2 linked regions of the Homo sapiens genome follow. The protein of the gene in region 2 purifies or fractionates together with the protein of the main gene of each other region. This does not show direct contact. Each region holds a gene or a part of one and is shown on either strand. Other genes may lie near its edges.

What was found. Proteins that work in one complex are often made in the same cells at the same time.
Region 1: the proteins of SLC47A1 (region 2) and EFNB2 purify together in Homo sapiens (affinity purification with mass spectrometry; one large-scale study listed by BioGRID and IntAct). This does not show direct contact.

The regions. Positions count from the first base shown.
Region 1 is NC_000013.11:106,532,863-106,537,099, reverse strand, and holds the start of EFNB2 (ephrin-B2 isoform 1 precursor), read left to right. Parts: upstream 1-1,437; 5' UTR 1,438-2,135; coding exon 2,136-2,257; intron 2,258-4,237. UniProt on the Homo sapiens protein: Cell surface transmembrane ligand for Eph receptors, a family of receptor tyrosine kinases which are crucial for migration, repulsion and adhesion during neuronal, vascular and epithelial development.
Region 2 is NC_000017.11:19,571,256-19,575,997, reverse strand, and holds part of SLC47A1 (multidrug and toxin extrusion protein 1), read right to left. Parts: exon of another isoform or gene 4,521-4,742; coding exon 4,426-4,520; intron 3,219-4,425; coding exon 3,137-3,218; intron 1-3,136.

The sequences.
Region 1 (4,237 bases), on a different chromosome or scaffold from region 2:
TAAACTAGTCTTCACAAGCTTTTACCACTCCAACTGAGATGTATACGTTAAGTTAGACTAATGTTTCAAAAACGGATACTTAAAAGCAACGTACCATAAAAATCTTCAGAAATTGTTACAAAGAAGAGTGAAAGAAAACAAGGTGTTTTACCATATGCATTTTTAAATTTAGCGTAGTGGATACTTTGTTTTAAAAATACATAATTTGTAGAATTACTGCCCAGTTTGTGTTTGAAACATAAATCCTGGGGTGGACGGCATTAAATTGAAAAAAAACGTGGGCATACAGTATATTTTAATTTTTCATACTGAATCGTACATTTGCACTGTGCCTTATTTCTACCGTGTTCTTCCTACTGTTGGACATATAAAAAGATTTTCCTTGGAACTGTGACTTGATTAGATGCTGCAGTATGCTGGATCCGGGTCGGTGGACCGCAGAGCGCTCGAGATGCGGAGAAGCAAAGCTGGCCGCTAGTGGGCGCTGTGGCTCCGTGGAAGTCACGGACGAGCGTCAGCACCGGCGCTCGACCGGGAAAGTAGCGAGGAGTTCCTGCCAGCTCTGCTCTGGGGTCTTGCAGACGCCGAGTGAGAAGCACATGCCTTGACTTTTCCATCTCACACCCTCTAAATCTCTGGTCACTTTGGGAAGCGCGCGTGTCTCCTAGAGGCTAGTGAGACGGTCCCCGCGTCGTGCCTGTGCCGGCGACACGCGGGGAAAGCTCCAGGGGCGCCACCTTCCCGGGGGGCCAGGAGGGAAGGGAGACGCCCGCAGAGAAGGCGGGAGGCGACGATGCTCAGGCCCTGATTAGAGCTGCAAATTCCGGCGCCGCGTCGCAGGAATCGTCTTGCAATTCCCGGCCCCACTGACTGAAACTGAGCCGTAGGCGATTGGTACCAAAATCAAGTGAGAAGCCCTCGCCGAGAGGCGTCGGGAGAAGCGCGCAGAAGCCGGGAGCTCTAAGGGTGCGCGCGGAGTGCAAGTCTTGCACGCGGGGCAGCGCCGCATCTGCGGAGAAGGGACGCCGAGCGGAGCCTGCTGCCTTCCGCACTGCTCGAGGGAAAGCCGCGCCCTCTGATTCCGCCGAGGGGGAAGGCGCCCCCGGGCGCGGAGACAGGTGGCCCGCTACTCGGCCGTCGCTGTTTCCACGTCTGCACCGCGCCCAGAAGGCCTCTCGCCGCCCCGGGGGCGCCCTGTGCACGCGCTGAGCGCTTCTCCTGCCCGGCTTCTGCTCCGCTCCCGCCGCCCGCGGGAGCCAGGGGCGGGGCTCACCTGTCAGCCCGAGCCCCGCCTCGCGGCACCCAATGTCGGGAGGGGATGGCGGACGGACGGACCGGCCGTCCAACCAGCGCGCGGCCGCGGAGCCGCGGGCCAATGGGCTTCGCGCGGCGGGGCGGGGCCCCGCGTTTATAGCGCTCTGACAGCGCGGCGGCCGCGCTGACTCTCCTCGGCGGGGACCGCGGCGCCGGCCGGAGCGAGGAGCTGCGCACGCAGCGGGTCCCGGCGCCCTCCCCGCACACAAAGGCCCGCGCGCGTCCGGAGCCCGCGGCGGGGACCGAGCTCCCTCTTTCCTGCCCTGGGGGCCGGGAGCCGCGCGGACTGAGAAGGCTCCTGCGCGCCCGGAGGCGCCCTACTCCGCTCCGTGCTCCGGGACATGGAACCGCGCCGACGCGGCGCCCGCGCGCTCGGGCCGCTGCCCGCTGCACTGGATCTATAGTCACAGGCGGCCCCGCTCGGGGCGCAGCGCCCGCCGCCCGCGCCGGTCGTCTCCGCTCCGGGTCTTTGTGTCCCAGCCCGCACCCGCCCCGCGCCCACCCGCCAGCCGCGGCCGGCCCGGCACCCTGGAGCCGCACGGGAGTCGGCCGTCCGAGCTGCGTCCGGCGCGGCGCCCCGGAACCCCGAGTCCGCCGCGCCGCCGCGCCCCGCGCGTGCGCTCCCGCCCCGCGCCCTGAGGGCCCCGGAGAGCGAGCGCACCTGGCCCGGCGACCGCTGGAGCTGCGCAGCGCGCCTCGGAGCTGCCTGCGGGCGCACGCCGTCTTCCCCGCCAGTCTGCCCCGGAGGATTGGGGGTCCCAGCCTGCGTCCCGTCAGTCCCTTCTTGGCCCGGAGTGCGCGGAGCTGGGAGTGGCTTCGCCATGGCTGTGAGAAGGGACTCCGTGTGGAAGTACTGCTGGGGTGTTTTGATGGTTTTATGCAGAACTGCGATTTCCAAATCGATAGTTTTAGAGCCTATCTATTGGAATTCCTCGAACTCCAAGTAAGTGGCGTCCGCGATCCCCCTATGTCCCCGCCCCGGGGTCCGCCGCGCCGTCCGGGCGGGAGGAGGGGTCAGTCCGCGGGGCCTCGGAGCCTGTTTCTGGAACCTCGGTTCCCCGTCCCCCACCCCCAACCCCCGCCCCATTTCACTAGGTGGAGACTCCTCGCTCGGCTTTCCAACCCGAGCCCCGCTGGAACGGACGGTCTCTCCGCCTTTCCTCCCCCGAACGCTCCCAGGCGCTAAAAGCTACTATCGGCTCGGGTGTCAAGTCCGGGAAGGTGTCCGATGGCGATACCTGACCCTCTCCTGTTTTCGAGGACGAAGGACATGGCCACAATCTAGGCTGGCCGGCACGCGGGGACTGGTGGGCTCTGGAGAGAGGCGGAGATGCTGCATTCGCGGGGAGCGCGGGCGGCGTGGTCCGGGGCCCGCGGGCGGGCGACCGGGGTGGCAGGACGCTGGCAGCGAAGCGCGTTCTGGAGAGGGGAGCCTGGAGTCGCTACGCTGCCCGCAGAGCCCTGGAGCCGGGGCGCCTTGGCACCGCGCCGCCAGCCCGAGGGTGCGCGGGGAGCTCGCCTGCTTCGCAGGAGAACTCGGGCGTCGAGCCCTTTCCTCCGCGCCGGGGAGACGGGCCTTAGGCTTCTCCCTGAGGGCCCGCCGCACCTCGGCCTCCCGCTTCGTTCATAAGCCGGTAGCCCCGGAGTATGCGGTCTCGATGGCCGACCTGATTGTAATGCACTTCCTATAAAAGCTTAGGGCCCTGCCCAGTCGACACTGCTCCTGAAGCCTTCTCCCTCGGGACCCTGGTAGGAATGGGATCCTTAGGATCAGATTTGCTCTTACCGGACTCTACAGCCGGGAGCGAGCCAGGCCTTGTGGAGAGTAACTTTCAGTTTGGGCCACCAGAGTGCATTCAGAATTTAGAAAATCCCATCCATCCCTAAATCTGTGTGGTCATAACTCGTAGTCATCTGGGTATTCAGTACTGTGTATCCCCTTATTTCGAATCACAGCCAAAACATATTTTACAGAATCTTGGAATTGTAGTCTCGGGAAACTTGGAGAAGAAGTATGCAGACATTAGCTGGTTTCTGGAGAAAACGTTTGAGATCAGAAGCAAAATCAATGGCCTAATTGAAGTTGAGCAAGTTGGGCCTGGTTTTAGGAGAAAAGAAATGGGGGATTGATTTAGAAATCACGTCTTAAAGGAGTGTGTCCATTCTCTTAAAAGTGTCAAATTTCAAATTCACTAACATGTTAACCAAGAATCCCTTCATGAAAAGGGCGAAAACGTCGGTTACAAATCGGTTTAAACAAATGTTTGTATGATGCTAGAAGGCACTTTCAACACCGCTCATACGGAGAAGTTACTTAGCTCTGCCTCCTTCCATGTAGTCTGCTCTTGCATGGATTATATTTTTAATGTAAATTGTTGTATTTGCTGATGAAGTACTGGCGGCGGCATCTTTGCATCGATGCCGGCTCGGGAGGCGCCAGGTGGTGCCGGAAGGAGCCGGGCTAGGACCTCGCGCAGCAGCGGGTCCCGGAGTCCGGGAGAGGCGGGCGGGCGGGCGAGGCGGTCGCGGGGAGCCCGCGGCGCCGCTGCCCGCCCGGTGCCTCCAGAGGTCACTCTTCCATGCGGAATCGCGCAGCGCCAGGCCTCGCCCCTCCCCCAGGCCGCCTGCTCCAGCCACTCTGCACTTTCACTGACCGGTTCTCTTTGAGGCTGTTTTTTTTTTTCTTATGAGGATTTAATATTTCTGTTTAAATCTAGTTGAAAGCAATTCCGTTAGCCTCTTCAGCGTTTAGTTCGGTGTGTGTATCTTTATCTTTGCGCTATATTAACTATTAGTTTGTGTGTATCCGGTAGGAGAATTAGAAATACCTAGTTGGGAGAAAAAGAAAAGTAGAACAATAGTTATTTCAACCTAAGGTTTAGACGTTAATAACTTCTTTTTGTAATGTGTCGAGATGGGGGGT
Region 2 (4,742 bases):
TTTACTATCCCTCAACAGAAGCACCAAATGCCCTATCTCCTCTCTCCCCTCTGAAAGTTGGTTATATGAGTGTTGGGCCTCACTGGGATGTTGGGTAATGACTGTGATTCTTCCCTTTTGCATGGTTAAATACATTTGTATGCCTTTTCTCTTATTCATCGGCCTTATTATAAGTTGATTTTTCAGTGAACCATCGGAGGGCAAGGGGATAGCTTCTCCTTCACCCCAACAGTTTCAAGCAGATAATGATTCACACCTAGACTTAGTCTCAAGACACTTCAGAACAGTAAGAGTAATAGGCCAGGCGTGGTGGTTCACACCTGTAATCCCAACACTTTGAGAGGCTAAAGCAGGAGGATTGCTTGAATCCAGAAGTTCAAGACCAACCTGGGCTGCAAAGCAAGACCTGGTCTCTACAAAAATATTAAAGAGTTAGCTGAGCATAGTGGCACGCACCTGTAATCCCAGCTACTCAGGAGGCTAAAACGGGAGGACTGTTTGAGCCTAGGAGTTTGAGACTGCAGTGAGCTATAATTGCACCACTGCACTCCAGCCTGGGTGACAGAACAAGACCCTATCTCAAAAAAAAAAAAAAAGGAATAATAATAAGAAAATGTCCTAAAAGCTTCCGAAGAGAAAAATGAAGGCATATTACATAATGGCACGAGAATAAGCTTGGCCATCCCACTTCCTAATGAGCATAAGTGGATGAATGTTAGGAATGTAGCAATATCCTCAGAGTTCTGAAAGAAAATCATTTTGGGCCGGGTGCAGTGGCTCATGCCTCTAATCCCAGCACTTTGGAAGGCTGAGACAGGCAGGTTGCTTGAGCCCAGGAGGTCAAGGCTGCAGTGAACCTTGATCGCACCACTGCACTCCAGCCTGGGTGACAGAGAAAGAGAGAAAGAGAGAAAAAGGGAGGGAGGGAGGGAGGGAGAAAAAGAAAATCATTTTGAACAGAATCATACCAGCTCACACTTAACAAAATGCTTTCCCTGGTCAGGCAGTTCTGGGTGCTTCTCAACCCCAACAGCGGTAGTATAAAAGTAAGTGCCATTGTTAGGCCGGGTGTGGTGGCTCACGCCTGTAATCCCAGTACTTTGGGAGGCCGAGCCAGGCGGATCACTTGAGGTCAGGAGTTCAAGAAAAGTCTGGCCAACATGGTGAAATCCCGTCTCTGCTAAAAATACAAATATTAGCAGGGTGTGGTGGTACACCACCGCACACACCTGTAATCCCAGCTACTCAGGAGGCTGAGGCAGGAGAATCACTTAAACCTGGGAGATAGAGGTTGCAGTGAAAACGAGCCACTGCACTCCAGCCTGGGCGACAGAGTGAGACTCAAAAACAACAACAGGGATAAGTGCTATTGTTATGCGGATTTCACAAATCAGGGAAATTGGCAAGATGGTAGAAAACATCCACCAACCCTTCCCTGAAGATCATTATAGAACCTCAATAAAACAAATTAAATATCATCTTGAAGGCATCAGAATGCAAACAATGTAATGAAGAGTCACCAGGGCAAGATCCAGGGACGAAGGAAACCCAGAGGGGCTGCCCAGCCTCTGAGGCTGCTTCACATCAGAGAGTTCATTCAGATCAGAGAGATGAGAGGATGCAGGTCAGAGAGACCTACATCCAGATCACATGACTGAGACGCTGACCAGGGCTTTGGCGACTTGGGTACCTACCAAGAATCAGGCCCTGGCAAACCTCTCTGTACTTGTGGTTAGAACCCCAAAGGGCTGCATCCAAGACTTAAGGATGAACCAGTCCAGGTGTGGTGGCTCACGCCTGTAATCCCAGCACTTTGGGGGGCCGAGGAGGGTGGATCACTTGTGGTCAGGAGTTCGAGACCAGCCTGACCAACGTGGTGAAACTCCATATCCACTAAAAATACAAAAATTAGCCAGGTATGGTGGTGGGCGCCTATAATCCCAGCTACTTGGGAAGCTGAGGCAGGAGAATCGCTTGAACCCGGGAGGCGGAGGTTGCAGTGAGCTGAGATCGCACCATTGCACTCCAGCCTGGGCAATAGGGTGAGACTGCTTTTAAAAAAAAAAAAAAAAAAAAAGCATGAACCAGAAGAAGTAAACCAAGCCTCACACTGGCTGCAGCACACCTTCAGTTTGGCTGGGTGCTCCAGAAAGCTCCATTTCCAAGATTGCCCTAGACTGCTGGTCACCCTCAGTGTCCAACAGAAGGAAAAGAAAATCCTCTCTGAAGATAAATAGACAACATTCTTTCAGGCTCAAGTTACTTCTATGAACAATTTTCAAATATAAAGTCTGGAACATAATCAAAGATAACCAGGCCAGGTGTGGTGGCTCACGCCTGTAATCCCACTGCTTTGGGAGGCCAAGGCAGGAGGATCGCTTGAGCCCAAGATGTAAAGGGTGCAGTGAGCTACACTGCACACCATCATGGGCAACAGGGCAAGACCCTCTTTCTATTTAAAAAAAAAAAAGTTTTTCTTTAATTTTAAAAAATTAATTTAAAAATAAATTAAAATCAAAGATAACCAGACACACAGCACAGGAGCCTAGACAACATGAATGAAAATTGGCAGAAACAACACAACTGACCACTGACTAAGTATCAGCCATTCTATGAAGTCAAAGTGTTTAAATTATAAAGGAGCAAGGGTTACTGAGAGTGGGTGGCTAACTGCCTAAGGGGCCAGGAATCGGGGGGATTACTCAACTGACTGAAGAAAACCATAACCACATTTGCACAATGTGAATCAGAAGCAAAGGTCCAAGCAACGACCTGTTTAAAGCCCACAAGTGTCTGCCTGATGAACAGCAGGGACCCCATTAAAACAAACAAATGTCAGTTTCTAAGCTATGGTAGAAGCACAGTATTTCCAAGTGTTAGAAATGCCTGCAAAGTGCTTGCAGAAATTAGGGGAGGAACTGGGGACCTTTCAGTCATCTATAGCGGTTTACTAATGTGTGGAATGAACTCAGTTTACCTTGAATTGTGTGTTACTTGGCTTTATCATGTGTTTCTGAAACATTATTGCCCTATTTAAATGAGAGCTCATAGCAGCAAATCTAGCTGTGTCTCACTAACAGCCCCTCCAGTCCTACCTAGACAGGCCTGTCCAAGGGCTGAGGGAGTCATATCTTACCTGGGTGAAGCGGATCCTGAGGGAGAGCAGAATTCCCACTCCGAGGCACGTTGTTTACTTTCAAATTGGCGTGTACCTGAGCCTGGAAAATGAAACTCAGTCCATCAGGCTTCACAATAGTGTTAATATGGTATTTTACTTGACCACCTAGTTTAGGAAGAGCCAAGCCATTTTCCTTAATTGGCATGTATAGCTGAAGTTCCTCTCATTCACAGGTCATCTTTCATAAAGATTGAAATGGGGCCAGGCTCAGTGCTCACACCTGTAATCCCAGCACTTTGGGGGGCTGAGGAGAGAGGATTGCTTGAGCCCAGGAATTCAAGGCCAGCCTGCGCAACACAGCAAGATCCCATCTCAATTAAAAAATTAAAAACAAAAAAATAACAACAACAACAAAAAAAACAGCCAGGCATGGTGGCGCATGTCTGTATTCCCAACTACCTGGGAGGCTGAGACAGGAGGATCACTTGAGCCCAGGAGGTTGAGACTCCAGCGAGATGTGATCCTGCCACTATAGTCCAGCCTGGGTGACAGAGTGAGAGCCTGTCTCTTAAGAAAAAGAAAACAGAAAAGGCTGAAATGGGGTCCATGAAAGGGAAGGTGGGATGGGAACAGTACAGGGTGAGGGAGACAGGGACAAGAGAGGGACCAAGATCATTTAGAACTCTCCCTTTTTACTTTATCTCTTTCTTTTTAAAACATTTTTATTTGTAGAGACAGGGTCTCGCTCCATCACTCAGGCTGGAGTGCAGTGATCACAGATGACTGCAGCCTCGAACTCTAGGGCTCAAGCGATCCTCCTGCCTCAGCCTCCTGAATAGCTGGGACTACAGGCATAAGCCACTGTACCTCGACTCATCTCATTTTTCTACCACCTATTTCTAGACCTCACACTGACCCTAGAAAGTTGAAGGGAAGGATGCACACAAGTATCTTAACAAAACATTTGGAGACCATAAAAACAACATCAGGATGACTTTGATGCATCCCACATTTCTCTCCAGTTCTAATTCTTGTCCTGAAATTGGATTTTCCTGCACAAGGGTGACAGCCTGGCATGGGAGACAAGGAAGAAAGGAGTCCCCTGTTTTTCTGGGAATAGATAAAGCCAGGATCATCTGGCCCTTCACATCTGAACTGTCTAGTTAAAACAACAAGAACAATAGTATTCATGAGATAAGAATAAAGAAAATGAGAAAAGAACTTTCCAAAAGAAAAAAGGGAGAGCCAGATCAGATCCTGTTTTTCTAGGAGAGGAACCTTTACCGGGACAGAATGAACATAGTTACCTGCTGACAGGCTTTTTTCCAATTTAGCTGAATAATAAAGCCTAGAAAACACACAGCTTGAAAGACTGTACAGATGATGATCCCTGACCACAGACCTAGAAATAGAAATATTTAATAGAGGTTAATTCCATAGAAAACCAGCTGCCCCTGGGGAGTATGTTTTGCCTATATCACTTCTGTCAGCCATACTGAATATCTGCTTTCATGGCTGAGGTGGAGCCCACAGCGGGCCAGAGACCTCTATCCTGCTCCTCCTCAGGCTTCCAGAAGGTTCCAGAAGGTTCTGGAAAGCCCAGTACTCCTTGAGGCCACCCCCA